Linked DNA regions of Homo sapiens: region 2 is linked to region 1. A link means that fine-mapping ties the variant in region 1 to the expression of a gene that starts in the linked region. Tissue or cell type: sigmoid colon. Region 1 holds a variant in brackets; the other region holds the start of a gene. All regions are shown on one strand. Distances are between the middles of the regions. Region 1 overlaps GNG12-AS1 (GNG12, DIRAS3 and WLS antisense RNA 1). Region 2 holds the start of DIRAS3 (DIRAS family GTPase 3).

What was found. PIP is the estimated chance that this variant, and not a neighbour inherited with it, causes the effect.
Region 2: it holds the start of DIRAS3, and the variant in region 1 is fine-mapped to the expression of DIRAS3 in sigmoid colon (GTEx, PIP 0.91).

Annotation. Positions count from the first base shown.
Region 1 is chr1:68,113,715-68,121,714 of GRCh38, reverse strand. GNG12-AS1 (GNG12, DIRAS3 and WLS antisense RNA 1) reads right to left here. Exons shown (of 10, transcript NR_040077.1): 7 at 3,983-4,264; 8 at 474-590. It also overlaps a transcript of WLS not described here. Among named protein-coding and RNA genes, the nearest start is that of MIR1262, 66 kb to the left of the region's middle. RefSeq lists a silencer at 4,755-5,049. The variant G/T (reference allele first, on the strand shown) is at 4,112.
Region 2 is chr1:68,045,149-68,055,833 of GRCh38, reverse strand. It overlaps DIRAS3 (DIRAS family GTPase 3), which reads left to right and starts at 5,207. Exons shown (of 2, transcript NM_004675.5): 1 at 5,207-5,286; 2 at 8,472-9,872. The coding sequence starts at 8,537. The coding sequence ends at 9,226. The region is part of intron 2 of GNG12-AS1 (GNG12, DIRAS3 and WLS antisense RNA 1); the gene reads right to left. It also overlaps the pseudogene ARL5AP3.

The DNA.
Region 1 (8,000 bases):
GCAGTTGGTCAGGCTCAATTTGCTGGTGTGTCCAGACATTCATGAGCCTGTACTTTGTCTTCTGTATTTCAAGGTCCTTTTTATCCTGTAGTGCTCCGGGAACCATCTGACTTCTGCAGGCTGTCTCTCCATCATGTTTTGATACGTGATTGATTTTGTTGCATGGGGATAACTTGGTTTCTGAGATGACATTAGCAGCCCCTTTTCTGCTGACATCGGGGGGCCTTCTAAGCATGTCTTGAAGTGTTCAGAGCTTCCTGTCTCCTGTGACAACACACTGATCTCTCAGGGAACAATGCCCTTCACTATTGAGACCAGACCTTTCCTTTGTGACTTTTCCTTATTTGGATTGATGGAACCCCTTTTTGTAGGGCCTGCCCCACTCAAGTCTTCCCTACCCCAGGCTCAGCATCTCAGCTCCTGAACCCCTCCTCCAGACATGGTTTCTAGAAAGTTCTCCCATTACTACTTACCTGTTAACTGCATCCTAGCTTCTCAGGGTTCCAAAATATGATGTTCAGATGGCAGGACTGCTCCAGCTGGCACAGATTAGTGTGAAAATGTCCCTTCCTGTACTAGGGCTTGATGTCCTAGGAAAATGGTACAGGATTTTTAAAAATACTCACTTCTTACTTTTTTGCTTCTCATGACCAAGCAACCACTAAATACTTAGTTTTAAAAATTTGTATTACCAATACCTTCTCTGTATTCAGCAATATTTTTGACTTAATGGTAGAACTTTACATATATCCCTGTTATGTATATTTTTTCCCATACACCAGTTAGGTTAAGGGACATCTTTAGCTTTTAAAAAAGTACAGTTCGAAATATAAAGTAAAAGCAGTTAAGTCTTTTCCAAGTACAAAGTGAATTGGTTCCAATTGCTAGAGAATTTACAAATATATATTCACCTGAGGCCAGAAAAAGCTCCTTTGGCCTAGGCCTCTCTCCTTTATCAAGCTCTCTCCATCACGAGTGTGCACATGTGCGCGCGCGCACACACACACACACACACACACAGAACTTAACAGCAGTGATGTGTGTTGTAATATGCAACTTTGTAAGTTACATATCACTCCCCAATACCACCTTCTCAGTCACGGAGTAGAGATCTTACTTCACAAGAAGTGAGACTCAGAGAGGTGAAGTGACCTGTGCAAGGTCACCTATTACAGTGCCAGAGTTGGAACTAAAGGAACTTCAGTCTGTGAACTTCAGTGTCTTTCCAGTAGCATATTTGCAGCAGAAGAGTCAAGAATGTTGTGAGCTGCAACTCTCACTAGAACCAAATGACCTTATTGGGAGATGTTAGTCCAGCCTTAAAAACAAGCTCTTCACCTCCATGAATGGCAAGTGTCTGCCCTCTTCAGGCCAAATCGAGAATGACATCTATAACTGAGCAAATCCTCAGAACCCAAGTCAGACCTTGGATTATTGCTTTTCAGTAAGTTCTGGTCCTGGCTGTGTCTCTAACTCTTGCTGTGGGACCCTCAGGGAAGCTACCCACCCCCTTCACCCCACCTGAATGAGATGATTTCTGAAGTCCTCAGCAGCCCTGATTCTAAGCCTCATAAGGAAGAGTAGGTGTTAATGGCATCCTAGGGCAATGGTAGGCGCCTGATGCAGATCTGCTGTGAGCCATGTGCTGGCATCACAGGGGTGGTTTATTAATTTCATTTATCATCTGGACAGCCCCTTCTTATAACGTACATCCTTGCCTCTTCTGAGGCTCTAAGATCCCCAAGGTGGCTCCTGTATCCAGAAACCCCTTGGCCTTCCCTCCCAGTTAAGCAAGATCTCTCTTCAACTCAGGGATGCTGAGAGATTGAAAGTGAACTACACACAGGAACAGCCAAGATAGGAGTTATTTCTATAGCACCATGCTTGGCTGATGTTCTTTACACGGAGTGGGCAGGATTTTTAAAACAGCGTTTGTGCCTTTTAGCCTGGGCTCCTCCTAAAAGCAGACTCTGGGACAAGGATTTGTGTGCAAGTAGCTGGCTTGAAAGGTGATTCCAGGAAGCACTGAGGTGGCATGGAGAAGCAAGGCTGAGAAGAAGGGAATGCAAAGAACAGCCACCAAGGTGCACGGCCAGGGCCTCTGTCAAGCTGTGAGGAACATGCTGCAGAGTTGTCCCCTGGGGCTGAGGAAGCTGTGAGAGAGAGCCACTCCACTCCCATCCTTTGTAGGTAGAGGGCCACCGCCAGGCTCTTAGCTACTTGGAACTAGGGCCAGCTTGAGGAATATGGGTGAGGCACCCATGGCCTCTGCTACATTGTTTTTAATCCAGTCTCAAAAACAAAATGGTCCTATCACAGAAACTCTGCAAAAATACATGAAAGAGTAAAGAAAAACATGTAAACATTTTACAATTACTCTATCCAAAGATAAATACTGTTAAAATGTCAGTATGTTCTTACACAAGTTTTTCCATGCATATATGTGTAGATTTATATACATTAAGATTGTATTATACATAGAAAATAAATTTCTGGACAGTTATATAACCTGCCCTTTTCAAAATATATCTAGGAAATCTTTCTATGTTATTGTGTTGTCTTCTATAACATGATTTTCATGACTTTACTATTATAGTCTCTAAAAAGGATGGTTCATAATTTTTACTGGACATTTCAGTGGTTTGCAAAGTTTGACTATTACAATATATGTTGAAATGAGCATCCTTGGATATAAATCTTTTTTGTACATCACTGATTGTTGCCTTAGTATCAATTCCTAAGAACTACTGGGTTAAAGATCAATTATTCATTCAATAAGCATATGTTGAACATCTAATATTGGGCCAGGTGCTTTTTTTTTTTTTTTTTTTTTTTTTTTGAGACAGAGTCTTGCTCGTCACCCAGGCTGGAATGCAGTGGCGTGATCTCGGCTCACTACAATCTCCACCTCCTGGGTTCAAAGTGATTCTCCTGCCTTAGCCTCCTGAGTAGCCTGGGATTACAGGCATCTGCCACCACGCCCAGCTAATTTTTTGTATTTTTAGTAGAGATGGGGTTTCACCATGTTGGCCAGGCTGGTCTCGAACTCCTGACCTTGTGATTTGCCCGTCTTGGCTTCCCAAAGTGTTGGGATTACAGGCGTGAGCCACCACAACCAGCCGGGCCAGGTGCTATTGTAAGCATTTGGGGCAGATCAGTAAACAATATCCCTATCATTGTGAAGTATATTGGTGTGGTAAAGGAAGGCGGGAGGGAGGAGGCAATAGATAGTAAGGTGATAGCGATGAAGGCTACACAGAAAAGCATTTATCATGGACACCTGTAAGCATACAGAGCCCTCCAGAACTGTGCCAACAGCAGAATGAGAGAGGCTGTGGCCCGCATCCTCACTGACACTACGTAGTTTTGAAATTTGCAACTTCAAGATGCAGAAATTGAATTTTGCATTTACTTCATTACCAGTAACACTGAGCATGTTTCATGTTCCTATGACTTGATATTTTTAGGTTGTCAGTTCAGATTCTTTATCCATTTTCTTGAGAGTCTGATTTAGTATATTTATCTTTTGTCTGTTACACGGGTAGCTCAACTTTTCTCCATTTGTCACTAGCTTTTATTTTGATTTGGATGTTTACCAGGATATAGAGCTTTTTTCTATGTAGTCAACCTGTACATTTTTTCTTTTATAGTTTCTAGTTTTGCTTTCATGCTTAAAGAAATATCCCCTAAGATAATAGGTCACCCACATTTTTTCTAGTTTTAAAAATTCTGTTTTTTTTTTCTCATCAATTCATATAGAATTTGTTTCCCAGCTGGAAGACCAATTAAATATTTTTTCCAGACAGTTATCCTAGCATGATTTTTTGGATCATAATTGGGAAGGACAGGATCTAGCAAGCTGGGGAGATCATGTCATTGGGTTACCCCCGGAGCAGTGGTGAGGCTTGGGTGTCAGAGCCATCCCATCCACAAGTGGTGCCAGAAGGCACCAACAAGACCCAGAAGCTCCCCGGGAACTCACCTCCGACTGCCAGTGAGGGTCCTGTCTGTGACAAAGAAATGTGCCATCGGGGGAAGATAAGCGTCCACTGCAGCACAGAGGAAACACGAGAGCTGCAGGCACGGGCTCAGTGAGCCGAGGAAGTCAGTG[G/T]CAGTGGCCGCCTGGCCAGGGTCCCTGGAGCTCCCAGGAAGCTGCCCTCCAAAGCAGTCTGCTCCTCTGTGCCACAGTGCAGAGGAAAGGTGTCTGGGGCCAGAAGCTGATGGCCGTATTGACTGGATGACAAACAGGGACCACACGAGCCTCCTGTTGGCAAAAGAGAACATGTGTGATGAGGCTGTATAATGGACAGCAGAAGGCCTTGGCTAGGGCTCTAACGTTACCCCTAATTGCTGTGTGTTCTTGGCCAAGCTATAGTACCTCTCTGGGTCTAGTTATCAAATTACATGTTGTTTAAAAAATTATACTAGGTTTAGCAGCATTCATTGGTTGGGAAGAATACTGTATAAGGATCCACTCTAGATGTCATGGTTTGCAGTACAAGCTGCAATTGTACAGATAAAGTTTGGGAGTGTGTACAGTATACTAGCTTGATGCAGAGGAGTGAGTGTGGGGGCAGGGGGAAATATGATTAGAGAAAACGGAGAAAGGAGGAAAAGCAGGGATAGAGGGAGGGAGGGAGGAAGGAAATTGAAAGTAAGTTGAGAAGAAATGGAACCAAGATTTTTTGTGAGTTGAATGCCTGACAATCATTCTAACCTGCACAAAGGTGAGTGGGAGGGGTCGGGGCCAGTCGTACAGGTTCATGGCAACCTTTTATTTCCCTAACTGGCTCAGGAGGGACAGTTCTGTTAGCCTTCAAAATTAAAACCACCCTTGTCCACAATTAATCAGTCCACAGCTATTTGCTGCCCTCTGCTGGCCAAGATAAACAATGGCTGCATTGCAAAAGAGTTTTTATCTTGAAAGAAATAGATTCATTCACCCAACAACTGTTTATAGAGCCCCTATTAAGTACCAGGCACTGTTCTAACACAGACCAATAACCAACATAGACAAAGACTCCTGCCTTCATGAGGCTTAACAACAATTAAAATATCTAGCATGTAGAATCCCTGCTATGGATGTGCCAGGTAGGATTTTAATCACTTGATATTTATCAACTTCTTTAATCCTTAAATGAATCCTATGAGGTAGGCACAATTGTTGGCACAGAGAGCTTGGGTGATTTCCCTAAGGTCACACAGCTAGGAAGTAACAGCCTGGTTCAACTCAGCCAATTTAGCTCCTGCTGCGCCTGTCACCAATGAGTTCTGATAGATGCATTGCCCTTCCTGCCCAAAATTTTGTATAGACGGAGCCATTATTAGATGGAAAAGCAAAAACACTGATCTTCTGGCTCAGCCACTGTGTGACCGTGAGCCTGGCCTTACCCCGTGTGGTTGTCAGAGGAGTCATCCATAAGAAGTGTATGCTTACACGGGCCCTGCTGATTGTTGTCCCTGTCCTCTTCCTCCCTCCCTGATGCTGGCCCTGGGTACAGGAGGGTCAAGGAAGCCAAAGGCGGCCTGAATCTCCGAGCTGCTGCTCCTGGTCCCTATTGTAAGGTCCTGTGAACCCTGCTTCTCCAGCTCAGCATTAATGGGGAGGGAGCAACCTGGAAGTTAATGAAGAAATGAGGGACTTCCCTGTTAGGGTGAGTGCTCTGGGACAAAGGGACAACCTACAGCAAGAGGAATTCAGGACAGCTGCAGGGGAGAGCTGGAAGCTCCCGACCAGGAGGTGCAGAGCTTGCCAGCCTCCAGGGTGAGACATACAAAAATGCCAACGACTGCTGCCAGGAGGGAGAGGGTGGAAGACTAGTGGAATAGAGCAGCAAGGGGGTCCTTGGAATTGCTTAGAAGCCCTTGATTGCTATTTGTTAATTTAAAACAAAAAAAAATTATGCCTAACCTCATACAAAAATTTTAACTTTATAAGAAGAGAAAAACATATTTTAAAGTCTCATTTGAAAATGCCTTCAGAAATTTGTTGATGTTTTTAAAAAGCAAATTTTAAAAAGTATTCCCCCCTCATAACAAATGTCCAAGCAACAACAAGAGTAATAGCGGCTCTTTACAAAGCACTGATAATGTGCTGGCACCTCACAGTAGTCCCATGATATAGGTACTTTCATTTATACCAATTACCAATGAGCATGCTGGAGCTCAGAGAGGTTGAGTGACTTGCCCTGTGTCACACAGCCAGCACTCAAGGCTGTGCCCGACTGACTTCATTATCACCACCCTATACTTTGTCTCAAAGGGAGGGAATGTTAAACTGAATGAATTGGCTCTAGGCCCCAGGGACTGCCTCGTGAAGAATGGCGAATTCCTAGTGTCATCCCAAGAAGCAGGGGCAATTTATCCTTGGGTTTGTCTGACCACACAGCAGAGGTTCCAGCTTCATTACTGGGGTTCTAGGCATGTGTGTTGGTGCAATCTGGAAGCAACAGATCTTCTTCGTGTCCCTGAGAGGGAGAGGGTTAAGCCACCTCTTGCATGATCTGGATTTGCCAGCCTGGAGCAGCCATAACCCTAAGGAGCCCCAGAGGGACCTCCTGAAAAGCAGTCATTGAGTTGAAACCCAAGGTGCAACCCATGACCGGGTGTGGTGGGGGGTGTATCATTATTTTCAAAGACTGAGACCCAGGGAAAGGCCTGTCACAGGCCACACAGTGGCTGCAGACCAGCATTATGAGAAGATCCCAGGCCTTATAATCCAAGCTTAGTCCTACCTGCAGTCCAGCACTGTGCTGAGCCTTCTACGACTGCCCCAGAGCAAACCAGGTGTCCCCTCCCAGGCCTACCACTGAGGTCACTCCAGCCTATACCTGCCCAATTAGGGCTGCTTCACACCTAAGTGGCACCCCCAGAGGGGGTTCTCTGTTCTTGCTTTACCCTATTCCAGAAGGAATAAGCCCATAGTATGATAACTGGCAGTTTTGCTAAGGCACAAATATGAATCTTGCCCACTTCTGGGACGGGGCTCTGAGCAAGTCTCTCAGCCTTCAGGGGCTGGCTCGAGGGATAAAGGGGACCAGTGGTCACTCCATCATCTGGCCAGTTTAGTCTGCACCAGTCAGATGCCTGTCACCTAGGTCTCAGAAGTCACATTTAGCATGAAACGGATTAAAACGAGGAGCCAGCTCTGTGCCTCAATTTCTTCATCTGCAGAAATGAGGATTATACCACTTAGCATTGCTGTTGGGAACATATGAATTAGGACAGTGCTTGGCATATAGTAAGTTTTAAAAAGGTATCTATCATTGTCTTTGCCATCATCATCATCATTATAGATTCTTGACACCTGTGGAATATATATAGCCCATGAAATGACAAATAAGGAATGCTTATATTGGCTCCTAAATTTCTCCAAATGACATATTTCAGCTATAGAATCCAGTGTTTTCTGTATATATCCTCCTTATGCCACAAGTTAACCAGTAGCTGGCAGTCTCCGAGTCCCTCTATCTTTCCAGCCTTCTGATCCTCACCCTATCCCAAGCTGAGACCTTGGCCCAGAGCCTCAGCCTGGCAGTAGGCATGATTCAGATTTGTTCCTCAGCAAAACTGCCAGTTATCACCCCATGGGCTCACTCCATCTGCAGTCATTGAAGCCAAGAAAGTTGAATCCGGGAATGCCAGAAGGTCCACTACTGGTTTCTCAAGGTGTGTTTCACAGGATGCTGGTTCTGTTGAGTGATTACAGTCGGTGATTTGTTGTTGAGCCATCAAATACAGTTGAGTAGCATTGGATTTTTAAGCATGTTTCTTTCTGAGGAGATCTCAGTCTTGAACACGCCACCTTTCTAAATCTGAGGCATGGGATGTACTCTTTCTCAAATGCACATTATCGTTCTGCTCCCTTTCACTGTAGGACAGCTTGTGGGATTTGCTGTCCTGTAGCAAGGCTTTTCAAGCCTTTCCCTGCGGACAGTTCACCTGGGAGCATATTGTAAAGTGCAGTTTCTTACTCAGAAGGGCTTGGGAAGGGCCTGAGA
Region 2 (10,685 bases), 67 kb after region 1:
ACTCGCTACCAAAAACGTAAAGAAAGCCCTCTTCGGTGTGATTGTTTTTCATTATGGGAAGCTCATTCAGATAACGTGGAAGTTGAACCTGATGAAAAGGGAACTTGAATGTCATGAAACACAGGAAGAATATGTCCAAGGTTATAAGTATACACTATATTATAGAGGAATATAAACAAGAAAACTAGTACCTTGAGCAGGGAACTACATGGTTCTTAGTAACAGCATGCTGTTACTTACCACAGTAACTTTTCTGGTTATATGGAAAAATTCAGACATATCAAGAAAAGCCAAGAGCACAAAATTAAGTTATACTGGAGAAAAACGCTGCTTTTCTACGCCTTCAAGATAAATATTCTAATGTCAGGCCAAAACAGCAATGTTAGAACCAAAAAAAGCCAAAGAGGAGAATGATCATCTCAGGCCTTCTCCAGGGGAGAAAAAAATGAAGGAAATGACATATTGACCTGCAAATCATGTACAGCAAGAAACTGTAAAAGATGAACTTCTGCAATATGAATTTGAGAAATAAAAAAAAAAAAACAACTGTACCTCAAGGAATGAAATTACCACTTTAAATCAAGAAGACAACATTTTTAACCCAAAACTAGGAAAATTAAATAGATGTCAAGGAGAAGATACCTGTTTAAAAACAGAGTATAAATTTAAAAATCAAAACCCCTTAAAATTTTATTAAAATCAGATAATACTTCAAGAAATCTTGTTGTTTTAAATATAAGGAACCAGACTCTGGTTCTGTATCAGTGCCTGTCCCCTGGTCCCCTACCTGAGAACGTTTAATTTTTAGAAAAACACACAAACAATTTGTTTTTAATTCCAGCCAAGTCAATAACACATAAAACTTCTTTTATTAGCTCATCCTTTATTAGTCCTCTTCAACTTTAGACCTTTTATTTTCCTAACCCCTACCTCTTAGTCCTATAATTTTTCTTTTTTTAAAAATGTGGGATAACCAATCATTTTATCTTATCTGACTATGATACAGACATTTATTTTGTATATATGATTTAACATAAAATTTTAAGACTTTAAATTACATGAGTTCATTTATAAACATTTATTTCATTTACAGTTAATTTATTTTTTAACAATTATACCTATATTTCTTACAAAAATTGAGATATTAGATGGAGCTGGTCATTATTTCAAGTTTTTTTAAATTAAATAATTATATAGCCTGTTAACATGAGGTGTTTACCCACATAAGAGCCATAAAGTTAAATACATGGGTATCTGTAGATAACTCAGAAAATACAACTTTTGTTTTTTTCCTTACAGGCAAAGGCTCACTCTGTTGCCCAGGCTAGAGTGCAGTGGTGTGATCATAGCTCACTCTAGCCTTGAACTCTGGGCTCAAGGGATCCCCCCTCCTCAGCCTTAAGAGTAGCTGGGATCACAGGCACATGCCTGGCTAATTTTTAAATTTTTTTATGGAGATTGGGTCTTGTTATGTTACCCAGGCTGATCTCAAACTCCTGGGCTCAAGTGATCCTCCCACCTTGGCCTCTCCAAGTTTTAGCATTGCAGGTGGGAGTCACTACCCAGCCACAGCTGTTTTTGTTAAATAATATTAAATTAATCTTATTTATCAAAGAATTGCATAAATATATATCACTTTGCTTTAGGCCTGGTTTATAGCTTCATGACCTTAATAGCACAGGCAAATATAAAACTGACCAGTGCTGGTGCTCAGAAACTGATATGCCAAAACATGGTATTTGACACGCTAAACTAAAGAAGCCTCAAGGTCTCTCTGACTTTTCCTCCAACCCCACCATCCTTCCCAAAGAAGCTGAAGTTCCTTTATCTGCCTAACAACCAGACCCACCAAGGAGAGCAATTGTTGGTTCTCCTCCTCCTGTTATCTCATCTGTTAAAGAAAAGAAGACCAAAATGTAACCACACCCAAGCAGACCTTTATAGAAGTACAATGACTGCCTCCAAGGATTATTTAAATTCCAAAGAAAACTATTTACAAGTTAATATCTGTTGCTCAATCCAATCATTCTCTCACCAATCATTCATTGCCCCTCAATAAATTCCTCTTCTCCTCCCATAATCTGTTTTACCAGAATCCAAGCCCCCCATTCTTTCTGTAATTTCAAGACTAGTGTATAAACTTCTATAACTCATTGAGAAGTTGGGTCTTTATTCTGAAAGCTCCTGTGTATACACATTAAATACATTTGTATGTCTTTTCTCTTACTAATCAATGTGGCCCATGTCAGTGATTTTCCAGCAAATCTTTGGGGGGCTGAGAGCCATAGCCCCCACACCAGTAAACACAGGCAAAAATATATATTGACAATTAGAAAGACGTTTTTAATTTTATTTTATCAACAATTTTAAAACCAATTACTTTTTTAAAGATTAAGTTACATGAACTAAAAAAATTAGGTTAATTACTATGTTTTTGTGTGAGTGCCCATCTATTTAAACCAATCAGATTAACATTTCTTAAGGGATTTTTGGCCTACCACACTGAATTTTATTATGTAGACATAACATACAACATAATACATGTACATATGTGTAAATATATTTAAACAAATATACACATAAAGGTCTTCTAGCTTTTATTTTAGAATTTTAGTTGTGAGATAGTAAAACATATAAACTTGCTGGTTTATAGAGAACAGTTGGATCCAAATTATTTTTCTGGTAAAATGAGATAAAGGCTATGAATCAAATTTTGGTAAAACAGTTTGAGTTAATTACCAGTGCAGGGACCAAAGGGAAACTTCAGTGAAGGCTCACTGAAAAATCAACCTGCAAAAGGCAGATTAATTGGAGAAAAAGCATACAAATGTATTTAATATGTATACATGGGAGCCTGCAGAATGATGACCCAAGCATATAGAGGAAATTGTCTATTTTTAACTTAGGATTAATAAAATATAGACAGCAATGTAGAAATATGATTGGACAGAAAGAGTATGAGCTAATGCCAATAAAATGAGTGGGGAAACCCAGTGAAAAAAGCCAAACTCTGTAAAATATTTAGAGGTTTATTCTGAGCCAAATATGAGTGACCACGGCCTGTGACACAGCATCAGGAGGTCCTGAGAACATGTGTCCAAGGTGTTTGGACTATAGTTTTCTTTTATACATTTTAGGAAGACAGAAGATACAGGCAAAAACATCAGTCAATATATGTAAGGTATACATTGGTTTGACCTGGAAAGCCGGTACATTTTGGAGGAGGAGGGGTTTGGCCAGTGGTGGCAGGAGGGAGGTTGTGGAAGCCAGGGTTCTTGTTACATATGTGAAGCCTGTAATATGCTTCAGAAAGAATAGATGGCATATGTACCTCAAAAGGTAAATGACCTTAAACGGTGTCAGACTCTTAGTTAAATCTCTCCCGGATCAGAGAAAGACCTGGAAAGGGAAGGAGATTGTCCACAGAACACAAATTTCCCTCGCAAAAGATAGCTTTGCACAGGACCATTCCAAAATATGTCAGAAATATATTTTGGGGTAAAATACTTTGATCGCCCTTAGGGCTGCTACCTGTCATGTGATGCTATACCAGAATCAGGTTGGAATTTGTTTTGAGACAGGTTCTCACTTTGTTGCTCAGATTGGAGTACAGTGGCTGTGATCACGGCTCACTGCAGCCTCGATCTCCTTGATGTGGGAGGCTCAAGTGATCCTCCCACATCAGCCTCCCAAATAGCTGGGACTACAGGCGGCCACCACCACACTGGGCTAAATTTTTTTAAAGTAGAGACAAGTTCTCCCCATGTTGCCCAGGCTGGTCTCTAACTCCTGGCCTCAACCTCCTTATTCTCTAGGATTACAGGCGCCAGGCTAGACCTCACAGGTCTTTAGACTTCTACGCACCAGGTACCTGGTAGGGGGAGGGATTATAGTGGCAGAAGAGCAGTACCAGTGGCCCACACCACACACCCTGGCCTCAGCTGGCTGGGGCACACAAAACCAGGTGCTACCGTCAACGACTAGGCCCATAGGGTACTGCTGTCAAAACCTGCTGCCAACAACTTCCACACACTCCCCAAAACGCTCGGTAGGCGGTGGTGCGCAGCTTTCAATGCATCCGCCGCCAGGCGCTCACAGGCAAGGGAGAAAGAAGCCAGACGGAGCTCGGAGATGTGGAGGGCAGACGCAGGCGCATTTGGAAAAGGGACTGGCGGTGGGAGGCGCAGAGGGAAAAAGGAACGACACAATCGGGCTTCCTAGCCGCTGGCGGACCCGATGGGGCGTCCTGCGAGGGTTCGGCGAGGGTTCTGCCAGGATAGTAGCATTGCGCCCAAGGAGTGAGAGGCACCCGGGGCTACTGGAGCCAGACCCTCAACCCGCCCTAGTGGGAGGCGAAGAACAACGAAAGCCTCGTATTCCCATTTCTCTAATGGCTAATGACATTAAAGGTTTTCATATGGTTATTTGCCATCTGCATATCTTCAGTGAAGTGTCTGTTTATGTCTTCTGACTATTTTCTAATTGGATTTTTAAAAATAATTGATTTTTGAGTTATTTACATATTCTAGATACTGGTTGTATGCCAGATATATGGCTTGTAAATATTTTCTCCTAGGTAAACCTTTTCAGTATCGTTACAGGGTCTTTCACAAAGCAAAAGTTTTAAATTTATGGAGTCTAATTCATCAACATTTCTTTTTACCGGTCTTGCCACTAATGTCAATTTAAGAACCTTTTGCCTAGCCTTAGACAATAGTTTGTTGTTTTTTAAAACCGTTTTGTAATTTTACTCGTCACAGTTATATCTAGCCACTTAATTTTTATGTAAGGGTTATTTTTGGCGGGGGGGAATCTATAGATGTCCTGTCTTTTCAGTATCATTTGTGGAAAAGATTATCTGTCCTGCATTAAACTGCTTTTGGACTTTCGTCTAAAATCAGTTGGACCGGTTTTTGTTGGCAAAGTTTTGCCTGAAGCTTATTCCAACAGGTGAGAAAAAGTCCACAGTTTAACAGTTCCTCCCCAACCTGTAACCCCGCCTTGAACTTCTGGACTAGCCCCTCGATTGTTGTAGATGCCAAGCGGACCTCGCGCCGCTCTGCGTTGGGCCAGCCCCTCACAGCTGGTTTCTTACCACGTATTGCGCAAGCGGAATCTATGCCTGTTACCCACACTCCCTGCGCCCCCGCACCCCGCTCCTGTGCGCAAGTCGGAATATAAAACCGCGGAGGAGTGAGCTCTTGGGGTGTCCAGTTGGTTGCCGCGGCAGTCTCTCCGAGCAGCGCATTTGTCTTCTAGGCTGCTTGGTTCGTGCCTCCGAGAAAGGTAAGTCTTTCTTTCGCTTTTTTAGGGGTACTTGAAAACAACAAGTGTCAGACAAAGCAGCAGATGCTGTTGCGCAGTAGAAGTTTATGGGCGAGTTGTCCCTGAAACTGGAACCAGGTCTTTCTTGGCGCGATTACGCAAGAACCACCCGCAGCCCTGCGGGCTCCTGGCAGGTCCTGCAACTGCACTTTGGATAGTCCCGTTGGGAAGCTAGCACTTTTTAATATAGAAGAACGAGGTTTGATAAGTGTGCGAGCTTAAAGGTTGACACAGTGTCCACTATTACAGCTGCGTAGGTAGCTAGTGTTCAGGAAGTAATAGTGGAGTCATGTAGTGTGAAAGTAAGATTGAAATGGGCGAGGAGGGTAGCAGCCGCCACAGCCACCAGAGAGAAACCTGACCTTGCAGGTGCGTGGTGATGTCCATGAGCCAGGCTGGTGCCGCAACAGCAGCGGCGGGACCTTGAGCTCCGCACGGCCGCTGGGTTTGGACGCCCTCTGGTTCCTGGAAACTTTCACCTCCCCCTCAGCCTGAGGCCAGGTGGCCTGGGAAGGTGGAAGGAGTGTGGAGGGGAGTGGGGGGGGGGGTCCACTGCCTGAGAATGAGAATTCTCTTCACATCTGGAAACTTCAGTTATCACGTGTGTCCTTTACCAATTTTTTTTCTTTTATTTTCTTTTTGATAGAGACGGCGGTCTCCCTATGTTACCCAGGCTAGTCTTGAACTCCTGTGCTTAAGCGATCCTCCCACCTTGACTTCCCAAAGTGCTGGAATTACAGGCATGAGCCAATGCGCCCGGCTGCTTTACCAATTTTCTATGAATGAATTTGTACATACATCCCCTAGAGCAGGAAGTAATGTAAAACAGAATAATTAGTAATGCACATTTCCTAATGTGGGATGTTGGTGGCCAAGAGATATTTGGTCTTTACTGGAACTCTTGATACTAACATGGAGTTTATAATAGTTGTGGAGAGTGCAGACAAGGCTAGGATTTCTGTGACTAGAGAACTCTTAGTGCGTGAAGACCTAAGGAAAGCTGGATTGTTGATTTTTGTTAATAAATAAGATGTGAAAGATTGCATCACTGTAGCAGAAATCTCCTAGTTTTTTAAGCTAAATTCTATTAAAGGTCATCATTGCTAAAGGAATTGTGCCCAGGATTTGGATAGCTGATGTCATTACTTAATATTAGATGATATCAACTAACCACATCTCATAGACTGGAATAAAGTGCTAGATTTTACCTGAAAGCTGCAAAAATGAATGGTTTAGATATATGTATGTATTTATTTTATATCAATTTCAAATATTTACTGTATTAACCTCCCTGGCCCCCTTTAATCAAGAATATAAAATCATCTACTTAAATTTTGCCACTTAAGTTTAGAACACTCTTAGAATCACACTATCTTAAAGAAGCCAGACTAGAATTAGAAGCAAGTTAAGTCTGAAGATATAACAACCAGCAACAACATTTTTTTTTTTCAAATGAAAACTCTAATATGGGGTGGGTATGTTGTGTCACACCTGTAATCCCAACACTTTGGGAGGCTGATGCAGGAGGATCACTTGAACACAGGAGTTCAAGACCAGCCTGGACAACATAGCAAAACCCTGTCCCTACAAAAAATAAGAAAATTAGCTGGGCATGGTGTCACATGCCTGTAGTCCCAGCTACTCGGGAGGCTGAGGTGAGAGGATTGATTGATCCCAGGAGGTTGAGGCTGCAGTGAGTCATGATCGCATGACTGCACTCCAACCTGAGGGACAGAGCAAGACCCTGACTCAAAAAAAAAAAACAAAAAAAAAAAAACCACCACCAAAACTCTAATATGGACATATTACTCTCTCATGGGACTTGCACATTCTAAAAAGGGTCCTTTTCCCCAGTACTGGGAGAGTATGTGTTCAACTACGCAGCCAGCAAGACAGGCTAGTTTATATAGGGAGTGTGCTATTCACAAAAAGCCTCTCTTCTCTTTCTGGTATTGTACATGACACAATCATAGCTGTACCTGAAGAGAAGTGCATTTTAAGGACCATCATCACCTAGAAACATGTATAAATTTCTATACCTAGTGCCACAGGAATGACATTGCCTTGTACTATTCCTACCTCTGTCCAGAGGCCAGCTATGTGGTCTGTCTGCATGGTGCCTAGAACTTTTTCCATCTGACCTAGGATGCTTCTGAAGCAGTCCCCCTGGGCAGCTGTCTGGTATTTAGGATATACCTGTGAGAAAAGTTTCTTACAAACCTAATCTACTATGTTTATTCCTGAACTCAAAAAGTTCATTGACTGTTCAAATCCTGAAATTTTCTCTATTTCCATAAGGCTGAATTAAAAGTACTTTGTTAAAGGTAGTAGCCATGGCAAAAGAAAAACCACTGTTCTGTAGAAAAACTCATTCAATATTTACAATCTTTTCTAATCAGAGATTAGATCCTGAAGAGAAAGGTTCATATATATATATATATATATATATATATATATATTTTTTTTTTTTTTTTTTTTTTTTTTTTTTTACTCCACTGTCATTGTGACTAAGGATTCATGAACTAAGACCCCTCCCTCAGCTCTTGGTGGCACATGGTGACAGCATGCTCAGAGCAAAGGTGCTCCCCATGCCTCTTCTGGGGCTGCACTGACTGCAGGTACCTCCCCTCTCTACATCCCACACCACTGATACCAAAAACCCCCTCCTTTCTCCTGTACTGATGACTCTGTAGCTTTAACCAGGGCGGCGGTGTCACTCTAAATGTCACCTTGGCATTCAGCCCCATAGAGTGGGGAAAATTCCCTCACCTGTTTCTCTTTGACTGTTCAGTCCTCTTCAATTAAAATCTTAATTTTACAAGCGAGGAAATGAGAGTGTTTCTTGTAGGGGTGTAGTGAGAATTTAATAAAACAGTTTAAGGAAAGAAAACAAAAGGTAGTATTGCTGCACTTTCTAGATGGTAAAAAGCAAACCACCATGTCTGTTTAATATATATCACCTGCTGGTCCCTCGGTCTAGCAGGCTGAACTGTGTGCCTGGGAATTTTCTTCTCGCTGTGTGCACCCCTTTACGTCACAGGGTGGACTCTCTTCAGAGTCCTAGTGGAGCAGCTGGCCAGGCTGACATGATCTGACAACATTGTAGGTTACCACTACCATCTCTCACCGTCTCACTTTCTTCCTAGGGGTCTCCTGCTGCCAGCTAAGTGTGGGAGAACTTGTGCACGTATCTCCCCTCCGAATCCCAACGATGGGTAACGCCAGCTTTGGCTCCAAGGAACAGAAGCTGCTGAAGCGGTTGCGGCTTCTGCCCGCCCTGCTTATCCTCCGCGCCTTCAAGCCCCACAGGAAGATCAGAGATTACCGCGTCGTGGTAGTCGGCACCGCTGGTGTGGGGAAAAGTACGCTGCTGCACAAGTGGGCGAGCGGCAACTTCCGTCATGAGTACCTGCCGACCATTGAAAATACCTACTGCCAGTTGCTGGGCTGCAGCCACGGTGTGCTTTCCCTGCACATCACCGACAGCAAGAGTGGCGACGGCAACCGCGCTCTGCAGCGCCACGTTATAGCCCGGGGCCACGCCTTCGTCCTGGTCTACTCAGTCACCAAGAAGGAAACCCTGGAAGAGCTGAAGGCCTTCTATGAGCTGATCTGCAAGATCAAAGGTAACAACCTGCATAAGTTCCCCATCGTGCTGGTGGGCAATAAAAGTGATGACACCCACCGGGAGGTGGCCCTGAATGATGGTGCCACCTGTGCGATGGAGTGGAATTGCGCCTTCATGGAGATTTCAGCCAAGACCGATGTGAATGTGCAGGAGCTGTTCCACATGCTGCTGAATTACAAGAAAAAGCCCACCACCGGCCTCCAGGAGCCCGAGAAGAAATCCCAGATGCCCAACACCACTGAGAAGCTGCTTGACAAGTGCATAATCATGTGAGCCCTGGGCCTTAAGAGCCAGCTCTTCCTATCCTGTAGCGTGTAGAAAACGTGGACTCATTTCACTATGTTACATGTACATGGTTGATTTTGTGCTGTTGTTTGGACTGTAACATCCATGTTGTCAATACGTATACCTTGTAAGTGGATAACTTTTCTTTTTCCCAGGCCAGAGAATTCAAATTGTTAAAACATTGGCATTTGAAGAGGAGAACAAAATGTAGCATGATGTATTTAAAGTAAGGCCTTTAGTAATGAATGTAATGAGAGAAAATGTTTTGAAAAGAACAAAACATCAAAATGAATAGAAAGAAAAATTGGAAGGCGTCCTTTTGGTAACCCGATTATTGTGTATTACCTTTAAATATTTCACATCCTGTAAGTGCTTAATCATATCTTTTAATTGTGTATTTAAGAAAAGTGTTTTCACAACAAAAGCTTTTGATAAATTGCTGCGTGACATATACTAAATAAAAAAATGAATATGTTGATCATTAGGGGTGTGGGAGCAGAGAAAATTGTGAAAGTGACTCTCACTAAAGATGTTAGTAGTTTCTCATGTCATTTAAAAATGTTTGAGTATTCTGCATAGCAGTTTGTAAAAGTGTAACAGCTTATTGACTTAATAAAGCTTTTCCTGCATGCAATCAGCTGTAAGAATTTGTCTCACCAGAAAACAAAACATTGCCCATTGTATTAAAATTTAAACCATATCTGTTAAAAGTTTCCAATAAGAACTTCACACATGGATGTCCTTGCCATGTTGAAATTATCCAATATGGGAGGGGGGTGTTTTAGGGAGGTCTCTGCAATACAGAGCTGTTTTGTGTCTTTCCTGAACTGACATCCCGAAGAACTCCAGGCATCTTTGAGGAAGATGGTCACAGTGTTGCTGTCTCAGAGGAAGCGGGTGAAAAGCAAGCCTCTGCCTTCTGCCTCTTCCTATATTCTGAAATACTGGATATAGGCAATAGGGAGCAGAATGAAAGACAAGGGGAGGAATGATATTTGAGAGACTCCCCCATAAGGGAGTTTTTAAAGAGATTATATTTGAACATAATTTTTTGAGCGAGGGAATAAAGTATACATATCCTTGCTTTTGAGAGTTTTTTTTTTTTTTTTTAAATTGGGAGAGGTTCAGGGGAGGCTCTTAATCTAGTGATTTTTTTCCCCACAAAATATTATTGAACAAATATCTATTGAACAATGTATGTGTTTCTAGACGAGAAGCACATTGTTGAGAAGGAATCGTAAACATGATTTTTTTTTTTTTTTTTTGAGACGGAGTCTCTTTCGCCCAGGCTGGACTGCAGTGGCGCTGTCTCGGCTCACTACAAGCTCCGCCTCCCGGGTTCACGCCATTCTCCTGCCTCAGCCTCCGAGTAGCTGGGACTACAGGCGCCCGCCACCACTCCCGGCTAATTTTTTCTATTTTTAGTAGAGACGGGATTTCACCGTGT